2 separate regions of the Homo sapiens genome follow, and region 1 is linked to region 2. A link means that fine-mapping ties the variant in region 2 to the expression of a gene that starts in the linked region. Tissue or cell type: whole blood. Region 2 holds a variant in brackets; the other region holds the start of a gene. All regions are shown on one strand. Distances are from middle to middle. Region 1 holds the start of EEPD1 (endonuclease/exonuclease/phosphatase family domain containing 1). Region 2 overlaps EEPD1 (endonuclease/exonuclease/phosphatase family domain containing 1).

Evidence for each region.
Region 1: it holds the start of EEPD1, and the variant in region 2 is fine-mapped to the expression of EEPD1 in whole blood (TOPMed, PIP above 0.99).

Annotation. Positions count from the first base shown.
Region 1 is chr7:36,150,373-36,155,744 of GRCh38, forward strand. EEPD1 (endonuclease/exonuclease/phosphatase family domain containing 1) reads left to right here and starts at 2,882. Exons shown (of 8, transcript NM_030636.3): 1 at 2,882-3,302; 2 at 3,761-4,830. The coding sequence starts at 3,953. RefSeq lists a silencer at 2,294-3,013.
Region 2 is chr7:36,177,804-36,183,175 of GRCh38, forward strand. The region is part of intron 2 of EEPD1 (endonuclease/exonuclease/phosphatase family domain containing 1); the gene reads left to right. Among named protein-coding and RNA genes, the nearest start is that of EEPD1, 27 kb to the left of the region's middle. The variant G/A (reference allele first, on the strand shown) is at 2,503.

The DNA of each region.
Region 1 (5,372 bases), 27 kb before region 2:
CTTCTATTAGCTGTCTGTTCAACTTCTTGGACCCCTTCATCCCCCTCCTAAACCTTTTCATCTCCACCCAGGCTCACGTACCCCACTCTCCCCAAAAACAAGGCCTATGTTTTTTTAGATTCAGAGAAAATTTTTTTTCATTTTTTGAAGATTTTTCCAAAGCTGTTGTCACTGAAGTACACCCAAATGCACATATTTAAAGTATACGATTCTGTCAGTTTTGACATTCATATGCCCATGAAACTATCACCTCTCAAACTACATTGCCATCAGCCCCCAAAGTTTCTTTGTGCCCTTTAAAATCCATTCCTCCCTCCCCATCATCCCCAGGTAACCACTGATCTGCTTTCTCTATATGTATGTCAGTTTGTATTTTCTGGTGTTTTATATAAATAGAATCATACAGTATGTTCTTTTTTGCCTTGCTTCTTTCACTCAGTATAACGATTTTGAGACTTTTCAATGTCATGTAATAGTTTGTCTTTATTGCTCAGTAGCATTCCATTGTATGGATATACTACAATTTATTCATTCATCCACTGATGGATTTGAGTTTCTTGTTGTTTTGCTTTGTGTGTGTGTGTGTGTGTGTGTGTGTGTGTGGGTGTGTGTGTGTGTGTGTGTTTGGCTATAACAAACAAAGCTCCTATGAACATCCACATTCAAGTCTCTGGGTTTCATGTTTTCCTTTTTCTTTGGTAAATACCTATAAGTAGATTGGTTGAGTCATATGGTAAGTATACGTTTAACTTCTTAGGAAACTTCCAAACTGATTTCCAAAGTAGTGGTGCCATCTTACACCTCCACCAGCAATGTATGACCATTTCAATTGCTCTGCGTCCTCACCAACATTGGATACAATCAGTCGTTTTAAAGTTAACCATCTCATTGCATGTTTTTGTGGGGTGTATGTATGTGTGTTTTTAAATGCACTTTGGTTTGGCCAACGCTTGGTTTCATTTATACCAAGGGGAGCATTTGCTAGGTTTATGGGGAATAAAACCAGATTATTTCTGTTGTTCTAGGATATTATTAATAGAGTCCTCTCTTCACCTCCAGAGTGTCCTGGTTTGTATGATAAAATATGTTTTCTCTGCTTCCAGCCCAAGTAGCCACGCTCCACGGCTGTGCTTCCACAGCCACGTTGCGCATCAAGGCATTCTGCTCAACGAAGAGTTTTCTCTGTTTTCCTGCTTGTCTTAAACTGTTTTTTCCTTACCGCACCAGGATTTCAGTGCGTGGCATAATGTAGCCCAGTGTTTGGGTGGGAGATGATGGTAGGTAGCAAGGCATTTTTGCGATCAAGTGCAAATAGCTTGCCTAAAAATAAAGCCAATAAAGAGAACCGTGGAGCCAGAGATGGAGGCAGTCCTGCCATGTCCTAATGACCCCATCATCACTTGGGTCGGATGCAACCAGACTTGAGGTAAGATTCCTTACCTTAACTTTTCAACAAGGAACCAAAAATTTCCCCCCGACCTTTTTTTTTTTTTTTTTGGTCTAAGCTAGTTTGACTTGGTTTTCTGACCAATATACATAGCAGGGGAATGTGCCTCAGAAAGGCAGTAGCATTTTCCAAACTTGGGCTGCCGCTAATTTTACAACCAAAGTACCTTCCGCCTGTGAGAGGTACTATTTTTGCTGACCCAGTCCTTGGAATTGAAACCAGATGCACTGGTCACATTGGTTGGGGATGAAACTTCAGAGAACACTAAACGTCCAGGGTCAAAGTATTCAACGATATCACCGCATGATTTGCTTAATCGAATACTCTAGCTCTAGGTATCCACTATAATGCAGAGGGCTCTTTAATCTTTAACCAAATTGTCATTTAGCAGTGTGATGCAAAAACTCTTCTGGGTTTTGGGAAGCAGCCCCCATTTCCCTCCTTCGTAATGATTAGACTTAATATTACAAAAACTTATCCTTGTTTACTCACAGCGCTAAATGTGCAAAGGAGCAAACCTGTATTTGACCTATGCGAACACACAGGAGGGTGGTGCGTGCCCTCTGCTAGGAGCACAATGCGTCGCTGGCGTTATTAGAGGACATCTCTCTGAGCGGAGCAAAGGTAATACACTGGTGGAAGAAAAGAAAAGGCCGAAAGTGGGGACAGAAATTAAGACGATCCCATTCAGTCTCCTCTGGAACGTTCTGCAAAATTCCGTGAGACCCTGGACCTACAGCGATGCACTCTCAGGGACTGCCCCGGCCTTCATCCCCACACCTCAAAGACAGACGAAAAGCAGCTGAGCAGATCTCGCCTCGGGCAATCCTAAACAGCCTCTACCAGGCACAACCAGTCCTAGGCCCCGGGCGGCAACCATGGTCCGGGGGCAGCTGACTTAGGACAGCCTCCCTGTGACCCGCCCTCGCCGGCACGGCGCCGGCTCCGCCCCTTAAGCCCCCTAAGTCCCGCCTCTGCGCTCCCGGGGCCTACCCCCGCGCTCATGGCCCCGCCCCCGCTTTTCCTACCCCATCGCGCCCTGGCCCCGCTCCCACACTCTATGACCCCGCCTCTCGCACTCCAGGCCCGCCCCACGCGCTCCAGGGTTCTGCTCTCCACCCATTTGTGCCAGGCCACGCCCCCACACCCATGGCTCCTCCTCTCGCACGCCAGGGCCTCCCCTCGCGCTCTCTGGTTCGTTCTCCACCCTCTTGAGCCTTGATGCCGCCCCCTCTTCCATGGCCCCGCCTCTCCCACTCCAGGCCCGCCCTTGCGCTCTCGGGTTCCTCTCTCCACCCACTGGTGCCAGGCCTCGCCCCGCGCCAGGGCCCCTCCCCCACGTGCCCTCGGGAGTCCCGGGGAGGAGTTGCCGCGCGGAGGAGGCGTGGCCGCGGTGCCTGCGGAGGCGCGAGCGGCGCGGCGCGGCGCGGCCGGGACTTTGGCTTTGACACCGACTGCGAGCGGGAGCCGTGCGGCTGGTGCTGGGTCTGGACTGGCTCTGGCGGATCCCCGCCCGAGTTGGGCGCAGGACTTTTTGCCGGGGTAAACGCAACTGCGGCGGCGCCGCCGCAAGCCCCGGTGCAGCCTCGGCGGCGGGTTTCGCCGCCGCTGCCGCCGCCTCCGAGCAGCCCTGCGGCTTCTATTCACTCTGGGAGAGCGATGCTAAGTTTCTCCCATAGAAAGAGCCGGGACACGCAGACCGAAGCGGCGTAGTCGGCTTCCAGGGCCTGACCAGTGACCCACACCCGCGCGGACGCCTAGGCTGGAGGCAGGGGGCCCGTGCTGTCCCGGGCTGGGCTCAGGCTTCCGAGCCGCAGGTGGAAGAGGAACCGGCGCCCCGCAGAGCGGCCGAGAGGTGGGGCGCGGGGACCCGCGGCAGGTCGGGTGGGGGGTCGATAAGCCCCTTCTCAGTGCCCGCTCCGGGGAGCACGGACTTCCCAGGTTGCAGGTAGCGCTGTGTCAGATGCGGAGCGTGGGGGAGGTGGAGTGGCCACCCCGTCTGCGCGAGCCCAAGTGTGGGTGACCCAAGTGTCAGAGTTGAGAGAGGCCTGGAGGAGAGGCATGAGGCTGATGGGGATAGGTCTCTTCCCAAGAGAAGCGGCTCGTAGCCTTTTTGGACTCCAGTGTGATAAAACCCGGACGTCCCTAGAGGAGAATCCACATGGGCCTAGCCTCATTGTGCCTGCGTTTTTAGGGGTTCACGGGCAGCCACCAGTCCCCGACTCCTGGTTACTAACTCTAGCACTAGGTAGGGGGTGCTAATGCAAATTTCTTAATTCAATGGGTTTCTATGTTTATTGATTTATTTTCTAGGCGGCCAAGTGAAAGGTAATTTTGGACACGCCAGGCATGGAAGATTCGGTGTTTGTCTATAGTAACCTCTTCAGTCCCTGAATCCTGCACCTTCCGTTTTTCTGTGCTTGTACGGCCTACTGGGCTTCCTCCCTAGCCAGAGAGCTCTTCTGCAGTGGTGCGGCCTTCCCGGGAGCCTGATCCTGGCGGACCATGGGGAGCACCCTGGGCTGCCACCGCTCCATCCCCAGGGACCCCTCGGACCTGTCCCATAGCCGCAAGTTCAGCGCAGCCTGTAACTTCAGCAACATTCTAGTGAATCAGGAGCGGCTCAACATCAACACTGCCACGGAGGAGGAGCTGATGACCCTGCCTGGGGTGACGCGTGCCGTGGCACGCAGCATCGTGGAGTACCGAGAGTATATCGGTGGCTTCAAGAAGGTGGAGGACCTGGCATTGGTCAGTGGTGTAGGCGCCACCAAGCTGGAGCAGGTCAAGTTTGAGATCTGTGTGAGCAGCAAGGGCAGCTCAGCGCAGCACTCTCCCAGTTCCCTGCGGCGGGACCTGCTAGCGGAGCAGCAGCCTCACCACCTGGCCACAGCTGTGCCCCTCACCCCACGTGTTAACATCAACACAGCCACCCCGGCCCAGCTCATGAGCGTGCGAGGCCTCTCGGAGAAAATGGCCCTCAGCATCGTGGACTTCCGCCGTGAGCATGGGCCCTTTCGCAGCGTTGAGGACCTAGTGAGGATGGATGGTATCAATGCCGCCTTCCTGGACAGGATCCGGCACCAGGTGTTTGCTGAGAGGTCCAGGCCCCCATCCACCCACACGAACGGGGGACTGACCTTCACCGCCAAGCCTCACCCGAGCCCCACTTCCCTGAGCCTGCAGAGTGAGGACCTGGACCTGCCGCCAGGGGGGCCCACCCAGATTATCTCCACTCGGCCGTCCGTGGAGGCCTTTGGAGGCACAAGGGATGGGAGGCCTGTGCTGAGGCTGGCCACCTGGAACTTGCAGGGCTGTTCCGTGGAGAAGGCCAACAACCCCGGGGTGCGAGAGGTGGTGTGCATGACACTCCTGGAAAACAGGTGAGGACAGGAACCACCATGGGTGTTGGGTGTGAAGGCAACTTGTGCGTGACCTCATCTATGGATGCAAATGAATGGATTCTTTTGCGGGTAGGGAGGGTGCAAGAGTTTTTAATCAATGTTCTTGAAGCCTCAGCCAATACCGTCACCTGAGAATGGGCTGTCCTTCTGCTCCAGAATTTTCTGAATACAGCTGGGCTTGTGACCCATGTCTTGAGTGTGAGATATCTGAGACTGATTCATAATTTTGGGGTAAGCAGAGGTTGTGTTTTTGTTACTGCTTTGGAGGATGCTGGGTCTACACCAAGTCAGGCACTCAGAGCATGGGAACTGGTGCAGTTTCGCATGTGAGAAAGAGCTCATTGGATTTTGTTTATTAATGGGAGGGAAAATCATATTTGTTCCATCAAATATGCCTATTTGTGCACACAAAATCATCTTAAAGGCCAAGTATTTGCAAACACATACAAGTGTCTATATTTACCAAAATGCTATGAATGAATCACTCTCCATTCTTTTTCCTTATTTAACCTGGAGTTGGT
Region 2 (5,372 bases):
CCCAGGTTCAAGCAATTCTCCTGCCTCAACCTCCCGAGTAGCTAGGATTACGGGTGCGCACCTCCATGCCCGGCTATGTTTTGCATTTTTAGTAGAGACGGAGTTTCACCATGTTGGTCAGGCTGGTCTTGAACTCCTGACCTCAGGTGATCCACCTGCCTCAGCCTCCCAAAGTGCTGGGATTACAGGCATGAGCCACCGCGCCTGGCACCTTCACAGTTTTTATGTCTCAGTGTTTCATTATTGCTTCAAGTGTCTGACTTAAGGTAAGTCATTTAAGCCCTCAGGGCCTCATCTTCTTCCCTGGAAAATGGAGGTGACAGTGTTCCTACCTCAGGAAACTGTTGTGTCAGTTAATAGAATAAATAAGTGTAAAGCACTTGCACCACACCTGGCTCCTAGTGTCATCACCACAACTGCCATCCCCGCGGTTACTGTTCACTGTCACTTTCTTCTCCAGCCTGGCCAAGGCCAGGTCTCTAGTCCAGGCTCACTGCCCAGCCTCTCCTAGCCACACGCTGCAGTAAAGGTGGAATTCTGAATGAGAGCTGAATCTTTCTGAAAGCATTGGGGCTCCCCTATGCTTTAGGTGAGTTCAGACTCCTCTCGGCCACGGGGGCCCTCCCCCTACACCTGGGCCCCTTCTTGGTCTCCTCATCTCATGATTCCTCCAGCTGTCTCTAAGCCCTTGATTCTCCTGCCATTTGGAAATTCTTCCAGATTTCATATGGGCTTTAACTGGGACAGTCTTCCCTCTCTTCTGCCAACCCTTGCTCTTCCTTTAGGTACCAGCATCGTGTGGCTCTTGGAAAAGCCAGCCAGGAGTGCATGATAGGCCCTGTCTACTTTGTGCCCCCTCAGGAGCCCTCCAGAATTGTAATTACCATGAACACCTGTGCACCATCATGAGTCCCATGAGGCAGGGTGTGCTCTCCTGCCCTGCACTGGTGTGGCTTCCAACTGTGCCTGGCACAAGGTCAGGAGCCCTCGAAGGTAAACTGTGTCTCTAAGGTGATGAGTTGCCTTCCTGTCTTAATTGCTCCAGGGAGATAACTTAATCCAAGGCCATGTTCAGTTAATTTAGAAAAGCCTAAAGTCTAGAACCCTTTCTCTGAGTCTCTGTTCAGGAGAATGTTCCTTTATGAATTCTGGGGATTTGATTTAAACTTGAAAAGAGATTATGGCCTTGGCATTTGGCGGGATGGTACTTTTCCAAGGGGAAGAAAATAATAAAAGAAATTACTGTGAACCATGTATTAATTTGCAAACCAACTTTTTCTTACAGAGTTCCTCTTTATTTTTCCAAACATGTATTTAAAAGATACATTTGAGTGAAGCAATGTCCTGGCTTTAATCTGCGGGATTTAGTGGTTTACTACCCCCAGTGGTAACCAGCCTTTCCTTTCCCTGACCACTAATGGGCTGGTGGGAGCTGGTGGTTCCCACAACTTCTATTTGTGTGTATGTTATCCCATCTTTAAAGATTTCTAGTTTAGCTGCATTTTATAAGGTGTATAATATTATGTCAGTACTTCTACATGATTTATCAATAAGTAATATATATATTGGGGTTACATGCTCAAATGCTATAAAGATGGTTGAAGTTGTGATGCATTATTTTAAAATTAGGAATAGGGCTGGGCACAGTGGCACACACCTGTAATCCCAGCACTTTGGGAGGCAAGGCGGGAGGATTGCTTGAAGCCCAGGAGTTCGAGACCAGCCTGGCCAAGATGGCAAGAAAGGACCACACTGTCTTAAAAATAAAAAAAAGAGGCCAGGTGTGGTGGCTCATGCCTGTAATCCCAGCACTTTAGGAGGCCAAGGTGGGCAGATCATTTAGGCCAGGAGTTCGAGACCAGCCTGGCCAACATGGTAAAACCCTGTCTCTACTAAAAAAAAAAAAAAAAAAAAAAAAAGTTTTCTGGGCGTGGTGGCGCATGCCTGTGAGGATAATGATTACGTAGAACTGTATCTGTACAGTGGTTTGCAGACTGTAGAAATCAGCATGAGCTCTTTGGGATGAAGGGTTGAGCCCTTCGGCTCGGCCTCCTCAGCAGTGTTGCTGGATGCTGTTTGTGAAGCACAGTTACCTGAGTCACCCGAGGAGCCTTAAGTGTGTCCCCCACCCCTGGCTTGCACTCTCAGGATGCCCTTCACTGCCCTGAGTGGGGCCGGGGTGGGTGTTGAGCCTCCCAGCTGATTCCAAGCGTGGCTCCTCCCCAGCAAACTGAGCCGTGGCTCCCAGACACCCACCTGAGGGACTTGGATACAGCATGCAGGAGCTAGAGAGCAGTAAGAAAGACTCTAAGAAGACTCTTTCCACCAAATTAAGTTCATTAATAAAGGAATTAGGTAATTGGCATGGGATGTTTAGAATAACTAGCTGATACCGGGAGAAAGCGATGCGGGGGAAAGGTAACACCTCCTGTGCGTGGGCATGAAAGTCACTTATCTGATCCCCATTTGTCCTCATTGGTACCAGATGTCCCATCCCATTGT[G/A]TCATTTCTGTGTGGCTTACTGGGGAGGCAGAGGGGATGAGGCAACAGCTGTTTTCTTCCTGTCTCCTTCATGCCCTGCCCACACTTTCATTCTCCATTCTGGGGGTAGTGGAAGGAAAGGCTGCTGCTCCCTTCCCAGAAACCAGGGCCATCGTGCCCCTCCTTGGCCTTACTGTTGGAATACTGGGAATCCTGTGACTGTACCCACAGCTGCAGTCCTAAAGCAGGGAGGTAGGCAGGAGAAATTTTATTAAACATGCTTGGAACACATTCGTGATTGGGGGTGGGGATTGTGGCTCTTAGGGCAGCCCTGGGAAGTTTAGGTGACTGAGTATTTTAGGAGTCTGCACATGTCTGCCTGGATACCTCATGAATGCCAGCTCATCCTCAGATCCCAACTTAAAATCCCTTCCTCTGGGAAGCTGGTTCCAATTCTGGACTGGTCGGGCTCCTTCCCTGCTCTGTGCCCGCTGGGACAGTAGTCTTCAGTCATACATCCACTCAGCTCCACCCCAAATCTGTCCCTTGCTCTGCAGGCTCAGGCCCCCCACCCCCTCATCATGCACCTGGACTTCTGCATCAGGGTCCCCCTCAGTCGGCTCCTGGCCTCTCACCTCTTCCCTGCTGCCGGCTCCAGGGTGACCTGGACCACCACCCCACACTTTCACTGCCCCCAGCAGCGTTTCTTAAAGCTGGGTTGGATCTGTAGAAGGATTCCCCAGGGTGCTTTTTTGAGCTTCCCCAAGACCTGCTAGGGCTGACCATTGTAGGTAGCCTGGAGAATGTGCATTTGACAAGCTCCCTGGTAATGCTGGCAAAGGCAGAAGTTTAGGGACCACTGAGCAGGGTCCACCAGGCGGTTCACAGTCTCCTATCCACGCGCTGTCTACATCTCATGACTCTGTCCCATGCCCTGCACACCCCACCCGCCACACCCCACTGCCTTGATTTCCCCTCACGTGCCTCTGTTCCCTTTCACACTCGGAGGGCTGTGGCTGTGCTGTCAGTGTGCACAGATGCTGTTGGGTAGCCCTCCTGGCTGTGACTCCCTTCTGGTGTCCTGTGCTCACCTCTGTGTTTGGTAGCTGTGGAACTCAATGCCCATCCCAGAGTCAATCATTTTGACTTAAGACAAGCGATTATATCTTTGCACTCCTAACATCTGTCTAGCACAGCCTGACACCTAGGAGGCAGAAAAAACAGTTTTGAATGTGCGAGTTGAGTGTGGCCAAAGTGAGAAGCACCTGGAGTTGGCCTGTATTCTGTGGCTCCCTCATGTGCCTAGCCCCCAAACACTGCCCTCATGTTACAGGGAAATGTGGCAAGTGAGGATATAAAGGTGTAGGAGATAAAGAAATATGGCAACATTATTGAAGTTAGGAACCGTCTGGATTTTGTCTTGGTGCTTCCAAGACCTCAGCATCACGGAGCAGTGGGTTGTATGAAGTTCAAGGCTCCCTTTTTCATGGAAAATTACAAGCACATTTATTTTTAGGTCCCATGTCCCTATTTGTTCTTTCTTCAACTCTTTGTGTGGCAATGTTAACAAAGAGGAGGAGGAGAGAGGGCAGCATGACAGGACAGACTTGCCCCATCTGTTACTCCTTCTCCAATATCACCAGTGAAAACCAGGATTCCCCAGACTTTTGCCATCCCGGTTCCCATCTGTTGCGTTTCTTACCATTGATGAAAGCCATTGACAAGAATAAAAGTGACTGATAAAATAATAGCATGGGGGAAAGTAAAATCTACAATATGCTTCTGGGAATTTGTCTTACCAGCGTGGATAAGGTTGTGCATCGCAGCGTTGGTTGTGGAAACAGTCTGTGTGTCCACTTAGACTGTAGTCCAGCCACAAAGGGGGACATTCTGCAGCTGGAACAGAAGGAAGAGAAGGCCCACATGGAAAAATTTCTGTTCTATAGTGTTCAGAGCAAAAAGTAAGGTACAGAACAATATATATCTTCTTTGCATTTTTGTGTAAGAGAAAAGTAAGAATATATATTTGTGTTTATTTGTAAATAATTGAGAGATCCTGCGTAGACACCAAAGAGCCAACACAATGGCAGTCCATGGTGGGGGCACGGGGAGGGCTGGGACAGTGTGGGAACCGGATTTCTCAGAGTGCCTCTCTTTATAGTATCTTGATTTTTTTGAACCATGTGAATATCTTACCTTTCAAAAACTTATACAGAGGTTAAAAACAATATATAAAATATGATTTTTAAGTTTAAAGTTACATAAATAGCCTGATCATTCTTTTGTCATTAACACCAAACCACTCGCCAGCGTTTGCCCCGCCTGGGGCCCCGCATGGCTTTCATCACAAGCTTCTCATTTCACCTCTACAAGGAGGGTGTGGACTTGCCCAGTAATGCACAGCTGGAAAGCAGGCAAGTCAGGATTGGAACTCCTGATCTCCATCTTGGGGATTATAAAACGGAAGCAGAGCAGAGGGTACTTCCTTTCAGTGATGGACACGGGACCAATTCACAGATGCAGGCACTAAAAACTGCACCTGTGAAGTTAAATCCAGTATCTTGGGTCTTTTCATGCTTTGTAAAGTTGTGCTTCATGTCTTCAGGCTCTTTAGGGTATCTGCATCCAGTTAGGACCCGGTGGTCATCTCATGTGACCTTTGACCCCTTCCCTTTGTGGAAAGCAGTAGCCATGCACACCCTGTAGCTCTGGGGTCAGGTGAGCAGGGCCAGCCTGGGTGTCAGGGCAGCTCAGGCGGACAGGGCTCAGGCAGGCTTCAGAGTGGAGAGCCAGGAGGGCGGCCTCATCCCTAAGCCCGGCTCCTGAGGCAGCTCAAAGACCAACTGTTCTAACTGTTCACCCACCAACTTTGAGCAGCTGACTGTGTAGTG